Regions from separate parts of the Homo sapiens genome. Here region 2 is linked to region 1. Evidence: fine-mapped expression QTL. A gene starts in region 1. The other region holds a variant in brackets. All regions are shown on one strand. Distances are from middle to middle. Region 1 holds the start of PLA2R1 (phospholipase A2 receptor 1). Region 2 overlaps PLA2R1 (phospholipase A2 receptor 1).

What was found. PIP is the estimated chance that this variant, and not a neighbour inherited with it, causes the effect.
Region 2: its variant is fine-mapped to the expression of PLA2R1 in thyroid (GTEx, PIP above 0.99).

The regions. Positions count from the first base shown.
Region 1 is chr2:160,055,390-160,070,984 of GRCh38, forward strand. It overlaps PLA2R1 (phospholipase A2 receptor 1), which reads right to left and starts at 7,226. Exons shown (of 30, transcript NM_007366.5): 1 at 6,906-7,226. The coding sequence starts at 7,014. LOC105373717 (a long non-coding RNA gene) reads left to right here. Exons shown (of 3, transcript XR_007087274.1): 2 at 737-841; 3 at 5,074-5,412. RefSeq lists an enhancer at 1-506.
Region 2 is chr2:160,001,080-160,016,674 of GRCh38, forward strand. It overlaps PLA2R1 (phospholipase A2 receptor 1), which reads right to left. Exons shown (of 30, transcript NM_007366.5): 9 at 15,535-15,595; 10 at 12,184-12,296; 11 at 4,573-4,742. Among named protein-coding and RNA genes, the nearest start is that of PLA2R1, 54 kb to the right of the region's middle. The variant G/A (reference allele first, on the strand shown) is at 4,504.

The DNA of each region.
Region 1 (15,595 bases):
AATGGCTCATTGCCTAGGGACATCAGAATTGCCTAGAACAATACATAAATCAGTAGCTTTGCACATTTCTGCTTTAGGAAAATATCACTCCCACATGTGGAAGGAGGGGTTTGGAAAAGGAGGAGTTGCAGAGAACAAGAGGCTGGCCTCCTATTCTTCCTGCTGTGAAACCAAATCGCATGCTTCTGTCATGCAGCAGGATACAGAATGAACCACACCATGGGGTCACAAGGCTATTCAGGGATCCTTTGCATTAGTGCAGAGTGCTTGGTTCGAATCCCCATGCTGCAAGCTCCTGTGGGCACAAGTTACTTAACCCTTCTTCATCTGTAAAAGAAGGGTATGTATTAATGTTGCCTACCTGTTTTGGTGAGGAGACAATGTGTCGATGTAAATAAAACAACAAAGAGTAACGACTCCCCAGCTGTTAGAAAATACTAGAAGCAGTAGAGGGGCATTTTTACCTTTGTATTAGAAACAGAAGCTATGCAGGAAATCTCAGGGCTACAGCTTCTCCCCACTGCCGCCTCCAGGTAGTGGCTCTCATCGCCCTCTTTCAGAAGGTGGCAGCTACCCCCCTTCCTCGCCACTGGGGCCCTCTGCCCTGAACCATTCTTCCCCCCATTCACCATGGCTTTGATACCAGCAGACTCCCCGCTATTCTCCACACCCCAAAGCCACTTTAGCTTCCATACAGATGACCCAACACTCTGACTCGATGCTTTCCCCACTGCAGGTTGTGGCCCATTTATGGTCTTGAAATCAACTGAATGTGTTATGACCAGCGAGACAAAACGAAACAGAATGGAACAGGGGGAAATGTAGCAGCATGTCATATTAGGTAAGGGTATTTTTTAAAAAATGAAACATTGTTTCAGTTATACATATGTAGACCTATATGCTGTGGGTTGTGATGTAAAATGTATTTCTTATTGTGGTTTGCTGACAAAAGAGTCCCAAACTCTACTCGACTTTAGCTTTGCTCTGGACATTGGGCTCCCTGACCTCCTCTGCTGTGAGGACCTTCTTTTGCCTCTTCTTCACTTTGGTGACCACTCCCACAAACACAGCTTGGATCTGGTCACTACCAAGAATAGGTCCATCTCCAAAACTTGGATTTTGCACTCTATAACCACTACCTCTCCTATTCTGCAATCTTCCCTCATCTAACTTTCACTAACTGTTTTCTTTTGTTGTTGTTTTTAAATATATATTTTCCTCTTTTTAAACCCTGTTTCTTGAACCCAAACTTTCTGCTCCTCAATCTTCCTATTGGGACTGACTTAGCTCAGCTTTAACTATCCAGACGGTTTCTTTGCTGCCTTCCAGAATTACCCTCTTCAAGGTGATAGGAGACCCTCTTCAAGTCCCAGACTGAACATGGCACTTCTAAACTTAAACATGCAATCTGGTTCCCCTTTGTGCAAACCCACAGGGCCCTTCTCAGCAGTACCCAATTCACTCAGCCAGACTTTTTCCAGAAGCAGGGTGCCTCCAACCAAACTCTTCCTCATCTCTCTCATGCTTCCAACTATAGACATGTCACTGCTTCTTGTTTTGCCTGGGACCCTACTCTGGTGGTCTATACCATCCACAGCCCTGGATGAAGCAGCATCCATCCCTGTGTCCACCTCCTGCCTCTACCATGGCCAATTAGCCAGGGGAAGGCCTTCGACTTGAGGGCAGAGCACAGGAACTAGCTAGCATGCTGTGAAGAATGTAACCAGACCCCTCTCCTAGGAAATTAAGGGACTCTTCCCAGGAAGCTAAGGGAGCTACAGAGGAAAGTCCTACTAGTCAAAGCCAAAGAAACAGTCAACAGAAAGAACAACCAAGCAGGAACCACCATAGAGCCCCAGAGACAGAGAGAAACAGATAAAGTAATGCTTCATGTCAGTGGCCAGTGCCTGTTTCCCAGGAGGCCTGGCTGCCCTGAAGAACCTGTCCTGGGTCCCCCTTGAGATCCTGGGACCATTACAACCAACTCCACGTTTGCCTGAGTGACCTTCAGTGGGCCTCTTTCCTTGAATCCAAAAGAGCTCAGAAGGGAACTTTCAGCTCACTGAACTTTTACTGTTGCCTGACACGTGATCCTGGGCCTTTGCACATGAAATACATGTTCCCAGGAATGCTCAGTCTCCTTTTTCCTATATGGTAACTGCCTACTTATCCTTTAGGAAAACAAATGTCTTTTTATGAGCCTCCAGCTCCCCAGGCCAGTGCCTCCTCTGCATGCCTTCAGCACTTTGCTCATCCCTGGTTATCATAAGACCTCTCTCACTGTTTTGTAATTGTTTATGTTTCTGTATCTGTCCCTGGACTCTCAGCCTCTTGGGGCCAGTGTCATATCCTACTCATGTTTTTACCTCCCCAATCTGGAGGTGGGTAGCAGATTCTGTTGGTTTCCTTCTCACACCCTCTAACCTGGAGCTCACTCACCTGCAGACAGTCCTCGTGCACTCCCACTGACTTTCTGTGGCTCTCTGCCTGGGAGAGACCAGGAGCACCAGGGGGTGAATGCCCCAGGAGTGACCTTAGTCAATAAGAGGCGGGAGTTGGTGGATAAATACTTCAGCTTCCTGCCCGTTGGTGGGTCCACTGAGTTCTATACAGTTCCTCAAAGGGTCCTTTGTGAAACTGAGCCCCAGTGGTCTGTGGTGGCTTTCTTCCCTCTCTGGTCTCATGTCCTCACTCCCTTACCATGCTTTCTAGAATCACCTCCAAAAAAAAAAACTACTTGCACCCTAAGGAAAACATGTCTCAGGAATTGCTTTTGGATGAACCCAACTAAAACAGGTAGATAAAGCACATATTGCCTGACAGATAATGAACAACTGAGGCCATCAGCCCCTACCCCTCTTTCCGTCGGCGCAGCATGTCGAGAGACACCCCGTACACCCAACCCTGTTTCACTTTCTTCTCCCCAGATAGGACCTGATGGCAAGCACACTGACCACACACTCATCTGCACCCTCACCTCCTTTGATCACTGGTCATTTAGAAGAGCCTCCCCTGAGTGTCCCCAGGCACTGACACAGACTTAGGTTCTTTCCACTCCTGCTCTGGGAAGCTGAGCACTACAGAAGGAAACTCTCCTACGATATATTAGTGGGGGACCATTTCACATTTATCATTTTTCAACCCTCAACAAAGCTTCAAAACCCTTTTACTTGCCCCCTGATCATTTCCTTTAGCAATGACTATGCCCAGTTTTCACCAGGATGCTCCATCCCCTTCTTCTTTCTCCCCGCTGTCCACTTTGTATCTGGAGTACTTGAGTGAGTGAAGTTAGTGTGTCTTAGCACTTGCTAGAAGAAGGGCTCAGATTCTGATCAGGGAAAACAAACTAAAATCAGGCTCCTTGGAATAACCAGCTAGAGCAAAGGTCCCCCACCTTTTCTGCCCCAGGCACTGGTTTCACAGAAGACAAATTTTCCACAGGCCAATGGGGTGGTGGGGTGGGGGATGGTTTTGGGATGACTCAAGTGCATTACATTTATTGTGCACTTTACTTCTATTATTATTACATTGTAATATATAATGAAGTAATTATACAGCTCACCATAATGTAGAATCAGTGGGAGCCCTGAGTCTGTTTTCCTGCAACTAGACGGTCCCATCTGGGGTGACGGGAGACAGTGACAGATCATCAGGCATTAGATTATCATAAGGAGCTCGCAACCTAGATCTCTCACATGCACAGTTCACAATAGGGTTTATGCTCCTTTGAGAATCTAATGCCACCACTGGTCTGACAGGAGGTGGAGCTCAGACAGTAATGTGAGGGAAGGGGAGCAGCTGTAAATACAGATGAAGCCTCTTTTGTTCACTGTTGCTCACCTTCTGTTGTGTGGCCCAGTTCCTAACAGGCCACAAACTGGTAGGTGGCCTGGAGGTTGGGGATGCCTGAGCTAGAGGTAGGAGGAGATGAGTTTCAGACCTGCCAAGTACAGTGCTGTGCACCGTAGTAAGTAATTGTTATGGGGCTGTCAACCTGTCAAAATGTCTGGATTGGCCAGAGGAAGAGGGTGCCATGGTGAGAGAGCAGCAAAAGGACAACACTTAGATGTGTACTATTACTAGCTCCATTTTACAGATGAGGAAACTGAGCTACTGACTGGCAAAATACCTGTCCAGGGTCACACGGATGGTAAATGGCATAGTCAGGATTTGAACTCAGATCGTCTAGCTCTGAAGCCCGAGAACTTAACTACTATATAATACTGTATCTACTGACTTTTGAATACAGAATTGTATTACTCCATTTTCACACTGCTGAAAAAGACATACCCAAGACTGGGAAGAAAAAGAGGTTTAGTTGGACTCACAGTTCAACATGGCTGGGGAGTCCTCAGAATCATGGTGGGAGGCGAAAGGCACTTCTTACGTGGCAGCGGCAAGAGAAAGATAAGGAAGAAGCAAAAGCAGAAACCCTTAATAAACCCATCAGAGGTTGTGAGACTTATTCACTATCACGAGAATAGCATGGGAAAGATTGGCTCCCATAATTCAATTACCTCCCCCTGGGTCCCTCCCACAACACGTGGGAATTCTGGGAGATACAATTCAAGTTGAGATTTGGGTGGGGGCATAGCCAAACCATATCAAGAATTATTGATAAATCATTGGAAAATCATCACAGTACAATCCATCATCTGCCTCCCAAGGCTGGCATGCTTGTAATACATATCAGATCTACAAATAATACATATCAAACAATTCAGATAAAAAATGCTGTATGTATAATCTGCTGTGCATTATTACATAGCCATTATTAGTGGATTGGAAATGAAAATGAGTGTGCATTTTTCTCTCAGTTGCTCTGTGGATGTCAATCGTGGCTAAAGTGAGTCAATGTGGTACAGTGAACACAGCGGTAAACTGAGGCACCCCAAAGCATGGCTAACTACATGGTAGCCATACCTCAACTTCCACATCTGAAGAATAGAGGGCTAGAGTAGACAATGTCTCAGGTTCTTTTCAATGTTAAGATTTTGTTTTTCCATTTTGTATTGACAGTAAAAACTTGACTTCAAACCTGTCCAGCTTACACTTGAAATTCTACTCATGCAGGTGACTGGAGTCAGGGAGAGAGCCTGTGCCTGTGCGAGGAATGGTACATAACCTCCGTGCTCCTTGGAAAATCAGCAGCAGCATTTTCATATCTGAAGAATCTCTATGCCAACTATGTCAACCTTTTCAGATGTGCAAATTGCACCTAGTAGGTACAAGGGCTAGCAGATGGCTCTAATTTCAGAGTGCCCTTGACTACTAAAAAGAAGGCACTGATGAGAATTTGTCTCAGGCCAGTATTTGGTTCTGCTACATATAGAAGGGATTAGCCCTTCACTCGGAGGATCACCAGCACATACTCTCTGTGTGGCCCAGTCCAACTTCTGTCCTGTGGGCTGCTGCCCTGTTCTACCACCTAGTGCCCAGGCAAAACCCACATTTTAAAATGCAAAGGAATAACCACTGCATGGTAAACTTAGTGGGAAGGAATCATACATACTACAGGATCAGATGTGCATCCACAGGAGCAATTTTCTGAATTGACCAAGAAGGTAAGAGCATCTCTGACTTTGGTCACTTTAGAATAAGAATGGTCTTGTTCTACCTGCCCCTGATTAAGCCTCCAGGGAGCTTAGGAAACACAGTCTAGAAAAGACTACCTCAAAAATGTAGACATATTCTACTGTGGAGGAAAAAATGTGAACGCAGATATTGATCACATCTTGTGTTACCCCTTCTCTCCAAACTTATCTCCAAAGGCAGAGAGGATGGAGGCTGTCTGGAGGCTCCTCCTGGCATATTTAACTCCCTCCTGTCCCCCTCCTACTTGCATATATGGACTTCTGCACTTAGGCGCAGGCTTCTCTGCCTGAGGTGGCCCATTCTCAAATGCGGGCCCCTGCAGGCCAGAAATCTCTCCTCCCTCTCTTTACACAACCTTCTGAGTCTCATGTGTAGTAGGTGCTCAATAAGTGTTTGCTGAATTGAACCCCGTTTTTCCACTGAGAGAGACTAAGGCATAAAGGCTTCAGATCACGCAGTTCATGGAGCCACTGGGGCTTCTCTCCCTCACCTGGCCTGATGTTTTCAGGCGGGGTGCGGTGGGTCAGGCCTGTAATCCCAGAACTTTGGGAGGACGAGGTGGGCGGATCACTTGGGCCCAGGAGTTGGAGACCAGCCTGGGCAACATGGTGAAACTCCGTCTCCACCAAAAATACAAAAATTTTGCTGGGCGTGCGGGCGCACACCTGTGGTCCCAGCTACTCGGGAGGCTGAGGTGGGAGGATCGCTTGACCCCGGGAGGCGGAGGCTGCAGTGAGCCGAGATCCCGCCATTACACTACAGCCTGGGCGACAGAGCAAGACCCTGTCTCAAAAAACAAACAAACAAAAAAAGTTTTCCTTAAGGAAGGGATGGACTGGGGAGGCCTGGCTTGGGGGTCACTCCTAGGTGGCGACGCAGACCCTGAGCGCTTGCTTTGCAAGGGGACGAACTGAGCCATCTTTTTGCTATCATTTATCCGTCCCAAATAAGCAGCTCTCAGAAAGTTTCCGTTTTGAAACTTCTCCGACACTCCTATCCCGGGCTGGCTCCGGGCGCCAGAGCCGAGAGGAGTTACCTGCGAGACCAAGCCCCCCCGCCCCCGCCGCCCGACCCCCGCAGGAGCCAGGAGGGTGCCGGGCCGCGCAAGTGGGGTGCTGGGCCTAGACAAGAGGCTGCAGGACACCACCCGCTCCCCCCATGCTCAGGACTGCTGACACACGAACCCCTACAAACGCGGCCGCCCTTGCCCGCCAGCTTGGCCCCTAGCTTCGCCCCTTCTTCCTCTCCTTCGACCACCCCGACCCCCCTCCCCAACGTACCGATCCAGTCCCCGACCCTGGGAGACTCACCCTGCCACTCCAGGAGCCGCTCGGGGGTAAGCGCCGCCGCCACACCCTCGGCGCAGCCCCGCGGCGCCCCCAGCAGCAGCAGCAGCAGCAGCGACGGCGACAGCAGCATCGCTAACCACTGGGCTCTCCGGGAGCCCCTTGTCCCGGGAGCCCCTTATCCCGGGAGCCCAGAGCCGCGTCCCAAGCACCCGGCCCCGCCGCGCGGAAGCGGATCCGTAGCCTCCTCCGCGCCCCACCCCCTCCGGGGGCCTTGCCAGCCCAGAGCCCTGGAGACCCACTCCGCCACCGCTGTCTCCACAGTGAACCGACACTCGGGGCTCTGGGCTGGGATGCGGGAAAGTCGCGGAGGTTTTCCTCGCCCCACCCACTGCGGCTTGGGGAAGGAGGAGGAGGAGGGGTGGGCCATCTGCCCATCCCAGAAATTCCTGCCTTTGGGGTGGGGACAGGCGGAGTGAGGCTGCTCGGGTCACACTCTCCGCTCCTCTAGCTTGCAGCCCTGCTCTCTCCTTTCTGGGGGAGGCCGAAGAGGAGTTGTGGGTGAGCGATTTGAGAATCTCCGGGACAAGGAGCCTGACATCCGGGTTTGCAAACCACCTGGATTCTGGTAAACACCGCGGATTTGCAGCGGGCAGCCTAGAGTGAACCCAGCTGCTCCGCGACGCAGGCGCTTTGGGAGGGTCCTGGACTCCTTTGACTTGTGGAGCACTGGAGACACCTGAGGGGCCACGCCGTGGTCTCCACCTTCCTTGCCCCAGAGTAACCCGGAGATTCTTCTATTCAGCTCCTTCGGTTTTGAAATAACCTCCTCTTTCCAACTCCTTTGATCCCCCAAGCCCCGCAAAGTAGCCGGGGTCCCTATTATCCCATTTTTACAGCTGAGAAACCCTGCCCAGAAAGTCGAAGTGCTTTGCTCTAGGTTACTTCCTAATCCAGCAAAAGTTACTCTCTAGCAAGTAGGACAGCCCTGGCTAGAATGTAGTCGTTCTAACTGTCCTCCTTCAAATAACCAGCAGAACACTGGAAGCGTTTAATATTCTGAGAACAGGCTCATATAAGACCTTTCCTCAGCGGGACCTTGACATTAGTCATTAAAACATAAGAGAGGGGGAGGGGAGGGGCAGAAAGCAGAGCCTGGAAGGAAATGCCTAGCAGGGAGCAAGATTGAAGGTCAGAGCCAAATGGGGAAGAAGGGAAAGTGGTTGCCTTGGCCATGGCCTTAACAAAAGGTGCTCAGTCCTGCAGGAACCTCAGAGAGCCTCAGAACTGTCTGTCGAGGACAAAAGGGGCAAGCGTTTATCCATGGACTTTATCCTTCCCTGTTGGTAAGGGAGATCCTAGGGTTATTAACTCCTCTGCACTGTTCTACAGCAGTGGTGAGTTTCAGTCATGGTCCCATACCTTGTCTCTTAGAAGCCCTGGGTGCATAGCATGGCAAAAGGTGAGGCGCTGTCAGGTTGTTTCTCAGAGGGTTGGGGGGTGGGGGACAGCCGGGGGAAACAGGCTGCAGAGGGGGCTGGAATAAGAGGTGGGTTGAGAGGATGTGAGAGGTTCCAATGTGTGTAGAGTTTATAACATATCATTACATGTAGAATTCAGCATCCTTGCTTGAAAACATGCAGAAAAGAGATGCTTTAAGCCTAGTAGATTACACAGACTTCAGCCACAAACTATGTATCCATCTCTCCTATGGCCTCAGAACTACATTGCTATGGGAATATCCCCGTAGTATTATGATAGAAGATTTGGCCCTGCCCGAGCAGGCTGGCATGTATTGCAGCAGGCAAGTGCAATGCACATGACATAATTAGGTCATAAAACAGGACACTGATGCTAATCTCTGGTGAGGTCCAGGGCAGTGAGAGTAAAGGGGAGAGAGACTAGGCTGGAGTGGGCATAGAGGCCTAACTATGCTCAGATAGTATGGTGGGTATTGGGAGGAAGAGGCTGTTCTAGGATGGGAAGAAATTGTGAAAAAAAAAATTATACAAAGGTTGGAGTGAGAACTGCTTGTATGGGAGAGAGTGAGGCATGCCTGGCTGAAATAAAGGCAGCCACTGGGGCACCCTGACGAATGAGGACAGTTGCTGGGACATTGGGCTACCTCTCACTGGCTGTGGACCAGGGTGAGTTATTCACGTGCTATGGTCCTGTTTTAGTCTCTGTATAATGAGGGGGGAAAATGCCTCCCTTGACCCATAGCAGATGCTATTCTGAAGTAGCAGAGCTAGGTCTGTGAGTAGGATAAGAAGGGAGAAACAAACCTTATTTCATCTTCAGAGCAATTAGTATAATGAAGAGAGGTGTTGACAGCTTCCTGGCCTACCAACCCCGTATTTTCTATTCAACCATTAGAACACTCAGAAAAGAGCTACTTTTTCTTTTTTTAAAAAAAATCTCTTCCTGAAACACTGCAGCTTTGAAATGGAAATCTGTGGTAAAGGGCTTTTTAACCTTCAAGAAAATGACCAGCACCCATATCCTGGGCTCACGTGTGTTTCAGGTTCATGAGGCAGTGTAGGGTCATGGTTAAATGAGGCAGCTCTGCCACTTACCAGCACACCACTTAGTTTGCCCCAGCCTCAGTTTCCTTCTGTGTAAAATGGAGATAATAATGTTTGCTTCATTGTGTGGTTGCATTAAATGAGCTAATGTATGCAGAGTGCTAGCACAGTGCTAACACACTGTAAAGTTCACCTCTGGGAGCTGTGGGTGTGTGGGGAGGGAGTGAGGAGCAGAGAGCAAGAGCAAAGGAGAGCTCAGAAGCCATGCTACAGAGCACTGTGCTAGTGGTAATTATGGCTCTGGACTTCAGCTGGGGAACACAGCAGGGAGGGCTCAGTGCCTGCTGGCCTTTGTACAGCTTCCCATTGCTTCCCTTCTCCTTTGGAGTTGGAATTCATTATTTATATCTCTCACCTGAATGTGAGTTCCAGGGCAGCACACTTCCTGGCACTTAGTCATCTCTCAGTCTCTGCTGAATGAGCGAAGGAATGAGGGAGGAAAAGAAAGAGGTTGAAAGAAATGAAGTCAGTCTTCACTTAACGTCATCTATAGGTTCTTAGAGACTATGATTTTAAGCAAAATGGCATATAATGAAACCAATTTTCTTTTTCTCATCAATGTCATAATGAAATCACAGTGAAGGAAATAATGTTGTTTGAGGACCTGCTGTATGTCATTTCACTTAAAATTGCAGTTTCCAAGAACCTGTCCATGGTGTTAAGTGAAGACTTACTGTACAGTGTGTGGAGTGATTTGAAACTTGAGAAAAATATTAAAACTTTGAATGGTATTGACAGTAAAGAAAATGGGATTTAAAACTCAATGTATAGGTTGCGGTTTGTCAAAATTAACAAAACTTTTTGAGCACTGTATGAATCAGGGTATCAGCAAGAAAGGGTGAGGTCCTGGTTTGTTGAATGTTTACCCAAGGGACTGTGAACCCCCAAAATTTGAGATGGGCCTCAGTTAATTTAGAAAGTTTATTTTGCCAAGGTTGAGGACACACACCCGTGACACAGCCTCAGGAGGTCCTGATGACCTGTGCCTAAGGTGTTCAGAGCACAGTTTGGTTTTATACATTTTAGGGAGACATGAGACATCAATCAATGTATGTATGATGAACATTGGTTTGGTCTGGAAAGGCGGGACAACTTGAAGTGGAGAGCGGGGCTTCCAGGTCATAGGTAGATAAGTGACAAGTGGTTGCATTCTTTCAAGTTTCTGATTAGCCTCTCCAAAGCAGGCAATCAGATATGCGTTTATCTTGGTGAGAAGTCTTTGAATAGAATGGGAGGCAGGTTTGCTATAAGCAGTTCCCAGTTTGACTTTTCCCTTTAGCTTAATGATTTGGGGGGCCCAAGATATTTTTCTTTCGCATTTCCCCCCTTTTCTTTTGAAAAATCTTTTGAAGGCCGAGCATGGTGGCTCACACCTGTAATCACAGCATTAAGGGAGCCTGAGGCACGTGGATCACCTGAGGTCAGGAGTTCAAGACCAGCCTAGCTAACATGGTGAAACCTCGTCTCTACTAAAGATACAAAAATTAGCTGGGTGTGGTGGTGCACGCCTGTAATCCTAGCTACTCAGGAGGCCGAGGCAAGAGAATCGCTTGAACCTGAGAGGCAGAGATTGCAGTGAGCTGAGATCATGCCACTGCACTCCAGCCTGCATGATAGGTGCATTCTCTGTCTCAAAAAAATAAATCGTTTGGAGCAAATTAGTCTCTGGTTCCAGGTTTAGTCTTTTATCTGATATCTCATGGCTAGGATGATTTATTCCTAGACAGGTAGGTCCTGAGTTATTAGGAAAGCTCATTTTTAGAAAGTTGTAAAGTCTCATGTCCTATGAAGAGAAAATAGGGGGAGGAAGGGAGAACAACAACAATAAACAAAAGAAATATTTTGGAAAATCAATGTAGACCACATTACTCTGAAGTCCATACATCAGTAGGCAGGTATGAAAGTGGCTTATGTATGTAAATAGGTTTTGCTGTTATTTTCTTCTGAAGTTCAAGTTGTCTAGTTTCAGTTTGCAGAGCTTTACAAAAGCACAGCTTTGTTTTCAGTGACTCCAAATTAGGAAAAATGGGGGGAAAAGGAAAAAAAATTAAAAACATTATTTTGAAAACTTATAGCCAAAAAAAATTAGAATTCAGTCCAAACTGTAGAAAATAATAAAACTGAAAAACATCAGACAAGACTAGAATCTAACAACAGGTGTACTACAGTTTTTGAAACATAATTTTTCTCTCTCCAGTTTCCCATTTTTAAAGACAAATCATGGTAGGACTGATTTGCTTTATTATACTTATCCTAATTATTTGCATACTGTGCAGCAAGAATAATTATTTTTTTACATAGGCTTTTAAATTGTCTTTGGTGGGACTTTATTCCATAGAAGGAATCTCAGATAAGACTTTTTTAAAGCCGAGCCCAGCCGTGAATTTGTGCCACCTAATACCTGTGAATTGGGTGATCCTTTCCTCTTGAGGTTCCAAGATAAACTTGGAGCTCCTGGGCCTGTCAGAAAGTAACATTCTTTACTTACCACAGGTCAGGAACCCTGTACAGGGAAGGTATGAGACCAGTTTCCCCAAGGGCTTTTATTGACTCCATAAGTCAAGTTTGATTCCTTAAAGGAAAGCACACCATTAAAGCCTTGGTAAAATAACCAATGTCTCCAATTGCGTCCTGTTGCAAAATGAAAACAGATTCTTATTGCAGTTATGCAAATAACTGTATTGCCATAAGTTAAGAATACTCACAGATAGTTTCCAAATTCTGGAGAAATCAGGTAGAGGGAAACAGATATGCTCCAAATTGTGTTCATAGGAGTATACTAAATTGTTAAAGCTGTCAATAGCTCAAAAGAAAAGTTTCCTTGACTCTGAAAAAAGCAGAACAAAGGATCAGCAACATTTAAAGCAAAAATCAAAAAATTAGTCTTCTATCAGTTCAGTTTACATAGTTAACTCCTGTTCTGCTTGATATTCATGAACATTTTAGCTCTCCATGAGAGTCCTGAAAGTTTTTCCTCTATTCTAATGTCACAATCTCCAAAGTTATCAGAAACCGGCATTTAAGAACACCTGTTAGACTTTTATAGCAGATTAGAAAACCACCTCCTAAAGAGGACCAAAACAAGACAACAATTGTCTGTGGATGACAAAAAATTTTAGGGCAGCCATGGTCAAAGACACAATTGACAAGGAAATTTGTTACATCTGTGGCACACAATAATTTAACATAACAATTATAAGTATTACTGATAATATACAGTAAGTCATATCAGAATTATAGGAGTTCCCATGATTTTGGAACAGATACCATATATTTATATAAATACAGCCTAAAGAAAACCAAACACCATTTCATCTTTGACAATGTTTCCTGTATAATATTTATACCAGACAAACCAAACTATGTCATCTTTGAACTTTAAGGAACTTAATATCTTAAAGGATTGATTAGGTTAGAAAAAGACATAATTTATAATTTGATTTTGGAAAGTTCATCAAATATCAAAGGTTTAAAGCCCTTGATATCACAAAATAAGATCATTCATTTAACCAAAGTGATAACTCAAGGATTTAAAAAGGCAAAAACCTTCATTCTTTGAGAAAGGAGACTTGACATTCCAAACAATAAGCTCTAATAAAAACAGCATGAAGCCAATTAAATTTGTTTTTTGAAATTTTATAAATGATCTATAAAATTTTAATCTTGACCGTAAGATACAACTTCCATAAGCCTTTTATAACCTTTATTGAGGAGTCAGTTAATGCTTCAAGAAAACCTTGTTAATTTGACAAAGGGGCCAATATGCTAGTCTTGCATCACTGCGCCTTTAACATTAATTATTACTTTTTAGAGAAACTGAACTTATTTTATCTTTCAAAATCAGCCCTTAGAATCTCACATGCCCACCTTTTCCATGATAGTTCCTGGGCCTTGAGTTGAAATAGCTTTAATTTCTGGTCCTGTGTCTTAGGAATGCAGTTTATTTTGATTGGCATCTCCTACAGGGCCTGAAAATGGGGCTTTAATTGCTGTCAGTGTTTAAAATGTAGTAGGAGTTGTTGTCCTTTTTAGACCCAGGAGTCAAAGCCCTGTAACTCAGTGTCACAAGTATTTTAAAAGTGCATATGGAGAGATGAAAGATAGATGGATGTAATAACCTTAATTAAAAAATTTTAATCTCAGTTTTTTTCCTAAGCAACCCAAAACTTAAATAATAATATGACAACTTGATCATATAAAAGTTTTTGGTTTTTAAAAAAATAAATCCTCTTATTGTGACTTACATAGACCATTCATGACATGCTTGTACTTTCTGGTTTGTTTTGAACATCCCTCTTTCTTAAGCAACTAGTCATTTTACTCTAGGACTAAATTTACCATACGAGATTCTTTCTCATATGAAATTATTTCCCTTTACGCTTTCTCACAAAAAAACCCCTCTTTATTTTAATAACTTTCTGTACATCTCTTTTATTTCCTGGTTCCTTTTACCTTGTTTTATACATGACCTTTAAATAAGCTTTGAATTAGATAAAAATTGTTCACCTTTTTTTTTAAAGGACACATTTGTTTTGAATGTTTTCCTACAAATATATTTTTATTGGAAAATACCCAAATAATAAAATATATGTGATTTAATTTGATATAACTTTAGATTCTAAATTATGATGAGCTTGTCTACAAGTATTTATCCTATTATATTTACCTAATAATTTTTTTGTCATTTACTTAGAGTATTTACAAAAACCGTGATTGTCATTATTTAAAGTTACAGAACCACCATTGCGAAATTGTAACTGAGAGAGTGGAAAAGATTTGACCTGACTGACTCCATCTTACTTCTAACCTCCAAACTGTTCTGTTCATTCCTGGGCATAGGTCAAACTAACTTTGGGAGGAACTTAGTTGATAGTTTAGCTTTAAAACAAAGACTGTGACAGTCCTTTCCCAAAACAAACCTTACTGCCTGTAGAATGGACCACCTAAAGCCACAAGATTAGAAGATATGGTAATCGTACTAAATTCAAGATGTAGAATTTTTTATTAAACCAATATCAATATCTTATTAAAGATTACTCAAGCAAAGGTCTTTCTGATTTGGGCTGGGTGTATAGTTTTATAACCCCTATGCCAATTTTTGACAACTTATAGTATTTGGCAGGGAAAAATATGAAATTGCCTGATTTATAAATGCAAACAAAAACGTATGCTGGCAATTCTTAAGACATTTCTAACAATACTTTACCAATAATTGTAAAGCTAACTTATTAAAGATTTTACTTAAGTTACATAAGCTTGAAAAAGCATTTGACTAGTCTTTTCTTTTATCCTGATAAAGTATTTGATTCAAGTGCTTTTATTTTCTTAACCCAATTAATTAGAGGTTTTTTATATATTTTCAGTAGTGAAACATTGTGTACACAACAAATAAATACAAAGACATATTAGGCATGCTGATAGAAATACATCTTATAGATTCATAAAAACCTTTTTTTTTCTATCTTACACTTTCAGATTCTAGATAAACTGTTTCACAGCCCTAGGCAGTTGTCAGCTAAATAGCCTTAAATTTGCATTTAAAGGAAACAACCCAGGTGAAAACCAAATAGCAAAATTTATGTCATAAGGTACAGAGAGAAAATATCTGGTGGTCCTAGAGGGATATTAAAGATGGATGCCAAATCAGACAAAAAATTATAGAAATCTATCACAGGATTGTATAAGAGGACCAATTTTGTCTACATAGGGACTACCTATCTTTTAACAGGATCTCTGAGCTCTGGGCAAAGCTCACACTGAATCCTGGGTCTCCAAAAAGGAAGAATTATTATGAGTTTAGACCATGTGATGCTTTTACAGTGCACTTAAAAAAATTTTTTTTTAAATAAAGACATTTCCAAGTGTCTGAACAAACCACACTCTTCCTTAAAAAACCAAGAGTAACCTCTGCTGCAACAACTATTTTAGGCAAAACACACACACACACACAAAACAACCCAAACAAACAAACAAACAAACAGGAAACACAATACAAAAGTAAGCAGTTTAAGAGCTGAGACAAACTTGTCTGTTTTCATTCTTGTGATTCCATAAGGCAAAACAGGTTTCTCCCCTAAAGGGAGCCTGCTACCTTCTCTATTTTCTTTATGGAGCCCCACACTGCTATAA
Region 2 (15,595 bases), 54 kb before region 1:
ACAGAAGGAATGGTACACTAGTATATGAATACATCTAAACAAATATTCATTGCAAAGATAACAACAACAAAATCATGGCTAACAGAAATGAAGCAGTTCAGAATTTTCAAAACTAGACAGCAACAGCAAATTATAATCCTTTTAAAGATGAATAACTTTGATATTGTTGATTTTGTTAAGAATGCATGTTGAATAGCTAGTGTAACAAATAAAAAAATAGATTTAGATAATACAATTTTCAGATAAGTAAAGGGGAAAGAATGAAATGAGAAAAGAAGAAAAAGATACATTCAAAAGATGGCAAGAAAGAAGAGAAAACATGACTAAAAAATGCAGGATAAATGGAAAGGACATAATAAAATGGAAGAAATAAATCCAATTCTATACATAATCACAAAAAATATAAGTAAACCAAACTATACAGTTAAGGACAAAGAATGTGTGAATAGAGTTTTAAAAATTTAGTTATATGCTGTTTATAAGTGATACATTAACTCTAAGAACACAAAAACATTCAAAGTTAGAAAAAAATTTAAAAAATGTACTAGGCCAATACTAATTTTTAAAAAGTTACTGTAGCTACATTCATGGACAAATTAACTCTAAGGAGAAAATAATTTTGAAAGAACAAGAGGATCACTTGGGATACTACTATACCGATTTTGACACCACAGGTGGGATATCACAATTCTAAACTTGTATGTTCCTAATAAAACAGCCTAAAAAGTATGTAATACAAAAATTCGACAGAACTACAGGGAGAAGTTTACACATCTACCATCATAGTGGGAGGTATCAAACACTCTCAATAATTGATTGATCACGTGGGCAAAAAATATTGAGGCTATAGATGATCTGAACAACACATTTAACATAATCTGTTGACATAGATGAAGCATTTCAGGTAGCAAAAGCAGAATATACAATCTTTTCAAGTACATATGGGATATATATATATAAAAAGAACACATGCAAGGCCATAATACCAACTTTGTATTTGAAAGGACAGGCACCAAACAAACCGTATTTCTTGACCACAGTGCAATTAAATAAGGTATTGACAACAAAAGGAACTAGAAACACCTGCATTTTGGGAAATTAAAAAAAATCTTCTAAATAATTTATGGGTTGAAATCATATTCATATTGGAAATTGGAATGTATTCTAAATTGAAAAATTATAAAACTCTACTAAATCTTGTGAAATACAACTCAAGCAGCACTTGGAAGGAAGTAGGAAGCCTCAGTAGTCTTATAAGCATTACAGAAATTGAATTAGTGGTTTTTAAATTTCCTATATAAAACATAAGGCAAATTCTAATAAATGTTTACTGTATATATAGTTCTGTAGAGAATAAAAGTGAACACTCTCCAATTCATTCTATGAAACTTAGCATAATCATGAAACCAAAGCTGTATACAAATGAAGAAATGTGGACTAGTTTTCCCTATGAAAAAAGGTTGCTAAAATCATAAACCTACCACTCAAAGGTTAGTTTGTGTACCTGCAACATAGGCAGCACCTAGGAGCTTTTTAAAAAATGCGGATTCTTGGACTTTACCCCAGATCTACTGAATCAGAATTTTAACTTCATCAAAATCTACAGGATATTCTTATGTACATTATAGTAGGTGAAGCTTTGTACTAGCAAACTAAACCCAGAGATGTATTAAAATACATATCACTAAGTTAAGTTTACCCAACAGTACAAAGCTGGTTTACTACTGTAAAGCAATTTGTCATATTAAGAGAGTAAAGGAGAAAACCTTAGGATTGTCTTAGTAGATTCAGAGTGTTGAGTAAAATTTAAAATCTGTTAATAATTTTAAAAAAGAGCTCCAAGAAAACTAAGAATAATAGAAATTATATTCTTGTATTACTGCTCTCTTTTCAGCTACATTGATTCTATTTTTTCTATTTCTTTTTCAATACCACACTGCTTGAATTATGTTAGTGCCATATTGGCAGGGAAACAGAAAATGAGAATGTAGGTTATGTTTATTATGGTATTTCGAATCAGTAGACGAAAGGGTGAACTTACTATATAGTGTTGAAATTGGTTACTATTTAGAAAAATTAAAATGAGCTATCTCCTAGAACATACTTTTAAAATCTCAGATCAATCAAAATTATACATTTAAAAAGCCAAACTATAAAAATATAAGGTTATATTTTTATAATCTTTGGTTGAGCAAAGCCTTTAGAAAATATAAAAATCTACAAAGCTAAAATGAAAAATATAAACTTTTTTACTACAAAAAGTTTAACATTTATGTGTGACAAAACATACCATAGAAAAATTAAAAGGCAAATAGCAAACATGTAGAGTTTATATTTAGAATATAATGAAATTTCCACTAAGTAATGAGAAAATAGAAAGTGTCCAAAATAAAAATAGAAAGTGATCAAATTATGTGACCATGTAGTTGAAAAACAAAACAAAATGTATAGAACAAATATGAAAAATTGCTCAAATAACTAAATGAAAAGGTAGACATTAAAAGAATAGTAAAACTTTTTTTATTCTATCAAATTGGCAAAAATGTAAAAGGTTGTTACATTCAGTATTGACAAAAATGTGGGAAAGCTGCCACTCTCAAATTTTGTTAGATGAACTTGTAAACTGATAATGCCTCAGTAAGATGTACACTTTTAGGCCAACATGCTCATAGTTATGCACAGCGACATCAACATAGAGATATTTGTTGTAACACTTTTGTAGCAGAAATGAAAATGAATTTCACCCAATGTCCTTCAACAGGGTCATGGCAAAGCAAATTATGAGTCCTACATACTATGAAATTCTATGTAGCTGTTTCAAATGTCGACTAATAAATATTGATGTGGAAAGTTCTCTAAGACAGATTGCTAAGTGAAAAAAATCAAATAACAGAAACATGCAATCCTTATATCCATTTAAAAAGTACATATGCATAAATGTATTTAAATGCAATGCATAGACAAACACCAGCAGGATCATACCAAACAGTTAACAGTGGTTGTTTCTGAAAAGGGAAATGTATTGATGTTGGGAAGGTGAAGAGAAAGATGTAACGGAGTACTTCCACATTTTACTTAGCACACTTCTCTATAATTAGAGCATCTACATAATTTACCATCCAAGCCAGAAAAATTTGGAGTAAAAATACCTGCTGTTAATTGCTCTGGGACACCAGACATAAATTAGAACTGTTCTGGGCAAATGAGGTATATGGTCACATTATCTATAGTAAGAATATATTCATGATTTCATCGTTGAATTTTAAAAATCGGTGGAGCTTTGCCAACCACTGTCTAGAGTTGGGATTAGCAAACCACCTTGGACTGGACTTTTGTAATTATGAGAAACAAGGCTTGTGTGGCCACTTTTATATTTTAGTGTGAGGCCACACTAAAGGGGAGATATACCTCCCCCTGTGGCTTAGCAAACACTTTCCTTACCTTGGTATATAGAGCTCTGAGGATGGAATAGACCAATTTGTATAAAGAGCTCCGGGCCTTCAGGGAGGGAAGAGCCTGGGGCCCCTAAGCCATTTCCTCTAGATACAAACTTAGTAACTCTTTGCTGTTGTCTCTGGCACAGCCCTGATGGAGATACAGGCAAGCAAGAACTCACCCTGAAGTAGAAGGGCTGTTGGGTCTAGGCTGTCAACCTCAGCTTAATACAAGGGCCTGAAGCTTGTTCCACAGAGACTGGTTCTAGTGTAGGCTGTGGCGGAAGACATCAGCTTCTCTGGTACTGACCAACCTGGCACAGTTTCATGCCTTGGGATTCAGAGCTGAACACCTGAGGATGAACTAGTAGAGCTGTTAACGCTGGAATCCTGGCTAAGGTACCCCAGGCAGTGACTGTGAACTGATTGGATGTACCCATATGTGCCCATCCACCGTACTTTGAAGTTTAACTGACCATTCTGAACTGAGTAAGCACTTGAGATTCTTAGACAGTGGGGGGTGCAGGTGGGGAGAAAGACATTAGGAGGGAGAAGCTGGACTTGCTGCTAATAAAGGCAGTGGTGGTCCTGAGCGATGAATTTATACCTTTAACATGTCAAATGACTCATACGGATTATACTTTTAAAAATGACCATTGGGCCAGGCAATTTGGCTCATGTCTATAATCCCAGCACTTTGGGAGGCCAAGGTGGGAGGATTGCTTGAGCCCAGGAGTTCAATATCAGTCTGTCTCTACAGAAAATACAAAAATTAGCTGGGTGTGGTGGCGCATGCCTGTGGTCCCAGCTACTGGGGAGGCTGAGGTGGGAGAATCACTTGAGCCCAGGAGGTCAAGGCTGCAGTGAACCGAGATTGCACCACTGCACTCCAGGCTGGGTGACAGAGCGAGACCTCGTCTCAAAACAAACAAACAAACAAACAAACAAACAAACAAATAAAATAAATAAAAACAAAGATCAGCCATATGTCACCCCCTGTTAACCTGTGTTGATCCTTGTAATTGATTTAGGCATTAAGAAAACATTAAGAAAGAATCAAAGGAGGTGG[G/A]CCAAGGGGTGGAAGGAATTTGGAGTAAAGAAAACAGGGAGGGTTGGTGATGCAGCACACTCTACTCACGCGGCTGGTGTGTGTTCCAGTGTGTGTACTGCACCGGCTCGGGTTTCTGCCCTACTGGCTTCCAAGTGTATTCTCCCGTATCATTTTGGTCCTGAAGAGCTATCCAAAAATAACTGTCCTTCATTTTTACCACACTACTGATCAAACTGGTAATAAAAGCCTGTTCAAACCTTAAAAGGGGAAAAAAGAAGTGGTTACATTAAGTTTCTGGGCAATAAAAAAATGTCATTAAAGCATAATGAAGTGCACAGAATGGCCCCAGAGTAAGCATTTCTCATCAATTCTTTAGAACATGGAACAGGAAAACACCCAAAGACCCTGAACATTACTAATAAATGCCGAATGTCAGTGCAATTCCCAGAACTATATGAGTGAGCAGAATCTGACTCTTGCATATGGGGCTTAATTCTTGCACAGAATAGAGAGTCCAGCTCCAGTTTCAAAGCATAGGTGGTAAAGTTCACATGGCCAGCAATGCATTTCTTGGAGTACGATGTGGCCTATTTTGTAATTAGGCCACACACCACACACACCATGCCACAATATGCACGGGGTAAAGGTGGGCAGGAGGGAGGAGGAAAGATATTATGCTTTTCTGAATGAGCATTTACTAATACAGAGTTCACACACACCCACCTACCTCACTTGCCTGGTGAGAAAGAAACAGAAATTAAAGTAGCAATTTTATGTCTCCCAAATCAGTGTGTTCATAGGCAGAGGTAGGTCTCAGCTTATTCAAATGTGTTTAAATCTGCATGTTCACTGAAGAAAAATGTGAAAGCCTAGGAACTAATCTAAGGCCGTACATCCACTAATATACTTCCCAAACAGCTGAATGAATTACTGTTCAATGATTGGTGGCAGTGCCCCCTTTCCAGTATGAATGCATCAAAAGCAGAATATAGAAGACTCACATACATGCTTCCACATGCACACCTACTAAGAAAAACATGACTATTAAAATTTAACTAGCATTGAACCTTTCAGCTAAGTTGAAACTATCTTGAGAAAGCTATTTTTAGAACATACAAAGTTAGAAGAAGCACATTTGAAACAGTGGCGACTTCTGGGCAGACCTGCTGAGTCAATGGAAAAGGAAAGGCTGAAGCCATTACCCAGGAAACCTAAGGAGAAAGCAAATTAGATCTTTTCATTCAATTTTGGTGGCTTTTTTCGTTACTGTGCATCCTTAACTTGCTAAGGGAAGCAAAAGCAATGAGGTCATTTATGAATAGAAGAGTCTCAAAGGAAATAGGAGATAAAAAGAGAAAAGAATAAAAAGAAGTAAAAATTTTAAGTGCCTTACAGATATTATTAGCAACATTTAGAGATCTTAGGTATTTATGGTACTCATCTTTGCAGGGGATATGGATTTTCGTCATACTTTAGTAAATATTTTCTGCAGATACTCTATTAATAACCTAAATAGCACACATTTGAAACAAGAAAAGTTCTTTTTTTAATCCAGATCATACTGGCAGAACCTTATATAAATGTGCTTCAAAAGGAACATATAGAAGACTAAATATTGCCTACATGCTGTTGTAATTTTCCTTACACTTCTGTTGGTTCATGCTCTCAATAATATACGATCTGCTTTTCTCTATCTCCTCTGAGGCAGAGTAGTAATACCGGGTCAGGGAAGTGCTGGGAGGAGAAGGGCGGGGTCCCTGGTTAGGGCTCCACCCCCAGCCTCTGCCCCCAGACCTAGGTGAGGACAAGCATTTCTGTTTTCATGCCCAAATGTTGCATTTCCCAAGACCACCCTGGCTTGCCACACCCCCATCCTGTGCTTGTAAAATCCCCCGAGGCCTTAGCTGGAAGACAGACAAGCGGCTGGACATCCAGAGGAACACACCGGTGGAAGAGCACACCGACAGGCACTGGCAGATGCCGGCAGGCCGTCGACAGGAAGAACGATGTGGAGTTTGGCCAGAAGAAAGTTAAGAAAATAACTCCACTTACAATAGTGCCCCCAAAATACATGGGAATAAACTACACAAAGACTTGTATACTGAAAACTTGTATACTGAAAGGTGAAAGACTTGTATACTGAAAACTGCAAAATGGTGCTGAAGGAAATTAAAGAAGCCACAGAGAAATGGAAATAAATCCCGTGTTCATGCCTTGGAAGACTTAATATTGTTAAGATGCTCATACTACCTAAAGTGATGTATACATTCAATGCAATCCCTATCAAAATCCCAATGATATCTTTTTCAAAAATAGAAAAGTTCATCCTAAAATCCATATGGAAATTCAAGGAACCCTGAATAGCCAATATAATCGTGAAAAGAAACCAAGTTAGAGGTCTGACACTTTTTGATTTCCAAACTTACTACAAAGCTACAGTAATCAAGACAGTGTGGGCTGGGCATATTGGCTCATGCCTGTAATCTCAGCACTTTGGGAGACTGAGGCAGGCAGCCTGCTTGAGCCCAGGAGCTCAACACCAGCCTGGGAAACATAGTGAGATCCTGTCACTACAAAACATAAAAAACATTTGCTGTGGGTGGTGGTGTTAGATGCCTGTAGTCCCAGCTACTCGGGAGGTCGAGGCGGGAGGATGGCTTGAGCCCAGGAGGTCAAGGCTGCAGTGAGCTATGACTGAACCACTGTACTCCAGCCTGGGTGATAGAGTGAGACCCTGTCTCAAAAACAACAAAAACAAAACAAAAAACCAGTGTGGTACTAGCATAAACACTAACGCATAGGCCAGTGGAATAGACTAGGAATAAACCCTTGCATATATGTCAAATGATTATCAAGAATGGTGCCAAGACTGTTCAGTGCAGAAAGGACAGTCTTCTCAATAAACTGTGCAGGGAAAACTAGACAACCACTTGCAACAGAATGAAGTTAGACCCTTACCTTATACTATGCACAAAAATGAACTCAAAGTAGATTAAAGACCTAAACATGAGAGCTAAAACTATAAAACTCTTACAAGGAAACACAGGAAAAAGACTTCATAACATTGTATTTGGCAATGATTTCTTGTATATGATACCAAAAGCACAGGCAACGGAATAAGAAATTAATAAATTGGACTTTATAAAAATTAAAAACTTTGCACATCAAAGGACACTATCAACAGAATGAAAAGGCAACCCACAAAATGGGAGAAAGTATTTGCAAGTTGTACATCAGATAAGGGATTAATATCCAGAATATATTAAAAATTCCTATAACTAAACAATAGAAAAGACAAACATCCCAATTAAAAAATGGACAAAGGACTTGAATAGACATTTCTCCAAAGAAGATACACAGATAGCCAATAAGCACGTGAAAAGATGTTCAACATCATCAATCACCAGTGGAATGCAGATCAAAACCACAGTGAAATACCACTGCACACCCAATAGGATGGCTATTATCAAAACAAAACAACCAGATAATAGTAAGCATTGGCTAGGATGTGGAGAAACTGGAACCTTTATGCACTACTGGTGGGAATGGAAAATGGTGTAGCCATTATGGAAAAGAGTACAGTGGTTCCTTAAAAAATTTAAAATCAAATTATCATATGATCCAGCAATTTCACTTATAGGCATACATGCCAAAGAATTGAAAGCAGGGACTCGAAGGGTATTTGTACATTCATGTTCATGGTAGCATTAGTCACAATAGCCAAATGGTGGGAGCAACCCAAATGTCCATTAATGGATGAATGGATAAACAATATGTGTATATACATACAATGGAATATGAATTAGCCTTAAAACAGAATTTCCAGAAACGAAATTCTGACACTACAACATGCTAAATGAAATAAACCAGACACAGAAAAACATAATTCCACTTATATGAGACATGTAGAGTAGTTAAACTCACAGAGACAGAAAATAGAATAGTAGTTGCCAGGGTCTGGGAGGAGGGGAGAATAGGCAGCTATTGTTTAATGGGTACAGAGTTTCAGTTTGGGAAGATGAAAAAAGTTCTGGAGATGGATGATGGTAGTGGGTGAACAACAATCTGAATGCAGTTAATGACACTGAACTGCACACTGAAAAATGACTAACATGGTGAATTTTACGTTTATGTGTGTTTTACGTATATTTTACCACAATAAAAAAAATATTAACTGCAAAAGTGTTTTGGGGAGATATGACAGTTGCAGGAAAACGGTAGAGCTGTAAAAATGCTTTAAAATAATGCACATTTAAGCTTAGGAGGGGTATAGTGGCTCACACCTATAATCCCAGCACTTTGAGAGGCCGAGGCAGGAGGATTGCTTGAGCCCAGGAGTTCAAGACCAGCCATGGCAACATGGCAAGAACCTGTCTCTGTAAAAAATTTTAAAAAATTAGCCAGGCATGGTGGTACATGCCTGTAGTCCCAACTACTTGGGGGGCTGAGGCAGGAGGATTACTTGAGCCCAGGAGGTCAAAGCTGCAGTGAGTCATGAAGGCACCACTACACTCCAGCCTGGGCAACAGAGTAAGACACTGTCTCAAAAATAAATGAAAGTAAAATAAACTTAGGAGAAAATGAGATATTGCAGAATTTCTCACTTTTGGCAAAATTCACAAAATTGAATGCCATTTGGATTATTTTGTACCAATATTCTATGGCTGATTGATTCAAAATTTAGACATACATGGATTTAGCCAATTATCCATTATAATTTTGGAACTCAACTTTTGCATTCATGCTTTGTCTGGAAGCAAAGTGGCCAGGCCTGAAAAAATTTTGTAACAATCAGCAAGCAAACAAAAATTTGTTACTCAACAATAAGGATCTGTTTTTCTTCCCCTCTCTATTCCACAAAGTGTTAAAAGTCTTAGACCAGGAGCAGTTGCCTGATCACAAAAGAAATAAGTAATTTGTAGCAGGTGGTTCTAATTGTGCCCATCAAACCTGTCATTCCATTGTGCAGAAGAGTGGAAAATCGATTAGCAACTACAAGCTTGGGTACTGAAGAGTGACAGGAGTGTCTTAAACAGGAAATCAGTAATGGAAGAAAATGATTACCATGGCCACTAGTGGACACTCCTGGATCTGAGACACTTTCCATCTACTGCCCAACCTTCTCAGACAAAAGATGCTGTTTGCAAAAATTCCAACGTGTATGGTGAATCAAAAGCAGTACAGTGTGGACCCTTGTTTCTTCCCTGATGGACTCTGAATGATTAAAAACCAAGAGCATTGGCCCTTTCTTTCTTCAACTCATGAGTCCTGTGTTGGAGTTGCTGCTTTGAATGTAGACATGTTTTGGGGGTAGCATAAGTATATGTTAACTGACTTGGACAGATGACACATCCTGCTCATCTGTACTCCCTCAGGGCTTGGCGGGTGACCAGGCAGCACACCAGCACAGGGCAATCTGGACAGGCGTAGGAGGCCAAGACTGGGATAAAAACAAACTTCTCTATGCCATAGTTCTGCTTTACAGATGGACCAGGCATGAGCGCTGGCTACTGAATACAGTTTACCAGAGAAAACATTTAAAGTATTCACAACATAGTCTTGTATCCAGTTTTGGGGAAAATGAAACAGATTTTTTTCCCAGATACTTTCTGTCATTTGTATGAGGTCCCCAAAGGGTTCATGGAATATGAAGCATTTGTTCTAACAGATTTCTGCCTTAGCTTGGGTCACTGTGGCACTATGGGTTATCTGTAATGTCACTGTGAGTTTATCCATTTATTGTGCTATTCTACCTTCTTCACTTATTTCTTGTGTCTATGTTCGATCTCTTCAGCTGCTGGGTTTCAGAAAGCACTGGACAATAATAGCATGCCTTTTATTTCTTGTGGATAGCATGTCAGTGTTTAATATGGGGACTCTCACAAAACAGGTATTCAAAAAAAATTTTCTAATAAACTCTTGGCTATTAATTTTTTGTGTGGTCAGATAACATATGAAAAATAATTAACACAGTGCCAGGTATGTGACAGGCACTCAATGAACATTAAACAAAAAAATAAAGAATAAGACATAAAAAACAGGTGAAACAATTGGACTTATTTTCTTTGGTAAAAAACATAATTAAATTGTAATTAACAAAAGAGCGTATAGCTTCATTGGTCAGCCTCCTGTGAAGTCCAGTGTTGACTCACTGACTGGGGGACTTCCAACCCAAGGTGTTCTTGGAACCTTTTGGGTGAGTTAACAAATTGATAAAGGCTTTCTTCTGCCTGTTAGCCAAACCTGGGAGGAGAAAGGTAGAACTAAAAACAATGCTGAGATACATCAAAGGTAGTGCTATATTTCAACGGGAGGATCTCCTGAAAGTAAAATGTTTCACCAGGTGACTTAGTCTGCCAAATGCTATCAATCCATTTGAGTGTGTGTGTGTGTGCGTGTGTCTGTTTGTGTGTGTGTGTATGCATTCCTGTGCATTGTTTGGAACAGAAGCTGGGTAAGAAGGCAAGAAAGAGGGTAAGAGGAGGAAGGACATACTGGCAGCTTTGGATGTTGACTTCCAATGTGGGAGGAGCAGAGAAATCATACAGGAATTCCTCTACAAATTAGGCTTATATGGGAAGGGTCTCTAGGTAAAACCAGTTGTCCTATTTGCTGGTATTCAGTGAATATTTTTAAAGGCAATGGCCCAGGTAAATATGCAAGTGACTTGCTTTGCAGGTGTAGTTTCCTGTGGCACCACTGGAGTTCTACCCCGCTTCTGTCTTCCCCAGGAGGAGTGGGTCTCCCAGGTGTTCCAGCCCCCACTGTCCTCCTGGCATCGATACTAATATGAGGTCACCTTTACTCTTGGTATTTTTATCCCCTACAGGTATTATGCATCGGTACCATGGGGCAGATTGTATGGAGTGTAAAAAGGGCACAGTCTCTGTGCCAGCATCAGGAAGGCATATGTGCACAGAGAAGTCTCAATCTAAATAAAATAGATGGAAGAAGTGATGGTGAAGGATTTGAATATCCTCCACATTTTATAGCTTTTCTGCTAAAAACACCCCCATACAACTCACATACATTACATCAAAAAAATACTTGTTAAATAATGTGTTTTGGCTGGGCGCGGTGGCTCATACCTGTAATCCCGGCACTTTGGGAGGCTGAGGCAGGTGGATCACTTGAGGTCAGGAGTTCAGACCAGCCTGGCCAACATGGTGAAACCCCGTCTCTACTAAAAATACAAAAATTACCAGGGCGTGGTGGCAGGTGCCTGTAATCCCAGCTACTCATGGGGCTGAGGCAAGATAATTGCTTGAACCTGGGAGGTGGAGGTTGCAGTGAGCTGAGACTGCACCACTGCACTCCAGCCTGGGCAACAGAGCAAGATTCTGTCTCAAAAAAATGAAAAAAAATAAAATAAAAAATAAATAACGGGTTTCATTTCCCATATAAGCAGTTAGAAGATAAAATCTAAAAACATCTGAATATATTAGAAAAGCTGGATAATTAATAAATCTTTACAGATAGTAAAGGTCACCTTAAATTTTATTATTTATTACTCAAAAATCAATTCTGGAATAACATAGTATAATTTAAATTCATCTCAATAAATAACTTAAATAATTTAGTACTTTGATGTATAGCACAATTTAGATTTTGAACAGTTATGATTGTAGCTAGATTTTATCATTCCAAGAGTCCTCATGTGAAAGCCGTCTTGTTTCTGTTAAAAAAAGTTTAATTTACCTGTTTGTAATGGTTACAAGTGCAGGAGGACAGTAATAACCGCTGGAAGCTTGGTCAAAGCTTCGAAGGACTGTGTCAATTTTGTAACAGAATCCACCATGTCTCTCCCATCCCTTAAAAAGAATAAAAGGGAAATTAAGGACACAATCTCATTTAGTTAAATACCAAGAGATATTTTTGCATACTCTTTTACCACCTACATAACTTTCTTCTCTTACTCCTTTAAAACTCCTTGAATTTTTGTCTTGATATTTTTATATTTATTCTATCCAGTAATGCCATTAACTACACCCACTTCTACATTTATTTAATTTATTATCTTAAAACCTAAAATTTTTAATTAACTTAAAACGTAAAACCTTAAAAGTAAATGAAAATAAAGGGCATTCATTCAAGATCTCTACCTCTCTCTTTCTCTCTCTCTCTCTCTCTCTCTCTCTGTCTCTCTCTCTCTCTCTCTGTGTGTGTGTGTGTGTGTGTGTGTGTGTGTCTCTCTCTCTCTGACTTACAGAATTTCATATAAATGGTCCCGACAGGAGGGTAGAAATTAAGTGTTGGCTCTAGGGTCAGGATGCATGGGTTTGAATTCTGGCTCCACTACTGTGCAACCTTGTTTAATATCATAGTTTTTTCATCTATACGATGAGGATAATAATAGTATTTATGGGGTTGTTCTGAGAATCAGAGAAGGACAATACAGATAGAGATTTTAGAATTGAACAGAGGGGAAAGAGAACATGAACAAAGAGAATATATGTATCTAGATAATATTAGAGATTTTTTTCAACTTTCATATTGATTATTTCATGTTATCCCTCTGAGATTCATTGAGATTAGGGACTTGGATAAAGTCAAACTAGTGGATCAGTTGGGCCTGAAACCCAATTCTGGAACAGTCCAGGATGGTCTTGTTTGGAGCATAATGCTTCCAAATAGAGAATGGCCAATATATGTATTTTTTCTTTTTCTTTCTTTTTTTTTTTTTTTGTAAAGATTATTCCTAAATTAACTGGCTGGCCTTTTGGAGGGGAAGAAAGTAAGCTTTGGCACTCAGACAAAAATGACAAACATGTAGGTCTATGTTTTAGCCCTGGGAACAACGAAGGGTGGCTCTTCCTTTGAAATCATGCAGTACAGTCTATGGCCACACCACCCTGAATGTGCCCGATCTCATCTGAAATCACACAGTATGGTAAGACATACATTCATTAGTCCTCTATATTTAAACTGAGCTATTTTAGTTCTTTTTTCCCCAATATTATTAAATCACATCATTTTTATCTATTTTAATTTATTCACCAGTTTTAAAACACTCTTCATTTTATGCTATGCCAATTCTTGCCAGCTTTTGATCAGTTATAAAATGATTTCTCATAAATTTCTTGGAAAAGATGTTGGTCTTGCAGTAAATTAAAGAAAACCTTAATTTAGAGATCAGCTGTGTTAGTTCAAACATATCATTAACTGAGGTAGGAAGCACAGGAGCTCCCACATCCAGCCATCTAGGATCTGCTCTGAACTCACTCCCCTTCACTTCTATTCCCAATCTTCTCTCTGTGAGTAACTGACAGCTCCATACAGCTCCTTCATGCATCCCTCCAGGGTAGGAGCAGGGATATTAGACTGCTCCTGTACTTGGAAGGACAGGGAGAGGGAGGCTGGCAATTTGACCTTTCCGATAATGTATTCTTCTTCATTAGCAGTTTTTAGATCATAGGCTGCTTAGCAAAACAAACAAACAAAAAAATCCAATAACTGAACCAGCTCAAGAAAAGGGAGGGAAAAAAAGATCTGGCATAGAATAATCAGAAACACAGACTTGTTACTTCAAGACTTTGTCCACACAATGAATACGGGAAGGATAACTGATTATATCAGTTAACCCTTTGTACACTAGGTGCCATTTCATTTTTAAATGAAAGGATGGTGGTGACAAAACTGAAGGAATTGCTCATATTGTCCAATCCCAAAAAAGTGACTCAGAAGGAAAAACAAATCACTTCTTTTGCTTTGAAATTATCAAGATTGATTTTACAAATTGATTTTTCAAGTGCAGACTGTTTAGAGAATTGCATTGAAGCAACTTTCTAAAAAAGAGAAAACTTTCAAAACCATATTCATAGACTGATGCATAATAAAATTACTGGAAATTTCCTCACAAAGCTAGAGAATTGGCTATGAACTCAGAAACTTTAAATACTGGTAATGCTGGCTGGAAAAGGGAAGCCATGAACAAAAGTTTGAATAGAACATCAGTTCTGTATTTGCAGTGTAAAAAGTTAATTGTCCTTTCAACAAAAATAAAACACGCTGAGTTTCCCAGAAAGCCACAGTAAGACAAATCCCCCCACCCTCGCCCCTGCCCCGTCTTCAATATTTCATATCAGGTAGAGATTAATCAGAGATCAGCTATAACTAATTCAGAGATTATAATCATTAGATAAAATGGTGACATGTCAGCTACGGCATATCTACTATCCAACTAGAGTATGAAGTTCACATGTTTACACATTGATTAATGAATAAAATGAAGATTCTAAGGGGATGGGTCATTGTTCAATTGCAATACAAATAACTGGATTAGAAGAGAAAATAATTAAAGCATAGTTGCATAAAGACCAGGTCTGGAAAACTGTTGAGACTGATAAAGCATAGTTCACTCTGACTCAGAGGAACACAATTGTTTTATGACATCTCACTTGAAAACTAGGAAAACCATAAGTCAGGCACAGTGGCTGAAGCCTGTAATCCCGGTACTTTGGGAGGCTGAGGCAGTAGATCACTTGAGGTCAGGAGTTCGAGACAAGTCTGGCCAACATGGCAAAATCCCGTCTCTACTAAAAATACAAAAATTAGCCAGGCGTAGTGGCGCACGCCTGTAATCCCAGCTACTCGGGAGGCTGAGGCATGCGAATTGCTTGAGCCTGGGAGGTGGAGGTTGCAGTGAGCTGAGACTGTGCCACTGCACTCCAGCCTGGGTGACAAAGCAAGACTCTGTCTCAAAAAAAAAAAAAGAAAAAGAAAAAGAAAAGAAAGAAAGACTAGGAAAACCAAGTGTGAGACAGGGCATCACACATCACAGGATAGTCACTGTACAGATGCTGTATCAGGACCATTTACATTTTTAATCTCAAAAGAAAAGTAATCCTGTGTAGAAGATAGCAAGACAACATTTCTCAGGACAGGAAAAAAAAGAGGAAAGGAAAGAAGGGGGGGGTGCGAGGAGAGAGAGAGAGATGAAAGAGAGGAGAGAGAGAGAGGAGAAAGAGAAATTCACTTCAAATTGATGGTGGAATTGATATTCTAGCTATGAAGTCCCTGTACCTAAATTGCAATGTTAACAGCACTTACCTCTTGACATCCTGATTCAGCATCAGAGAGGACATGGCCTGCTTTTTTACAAATGTAAAAA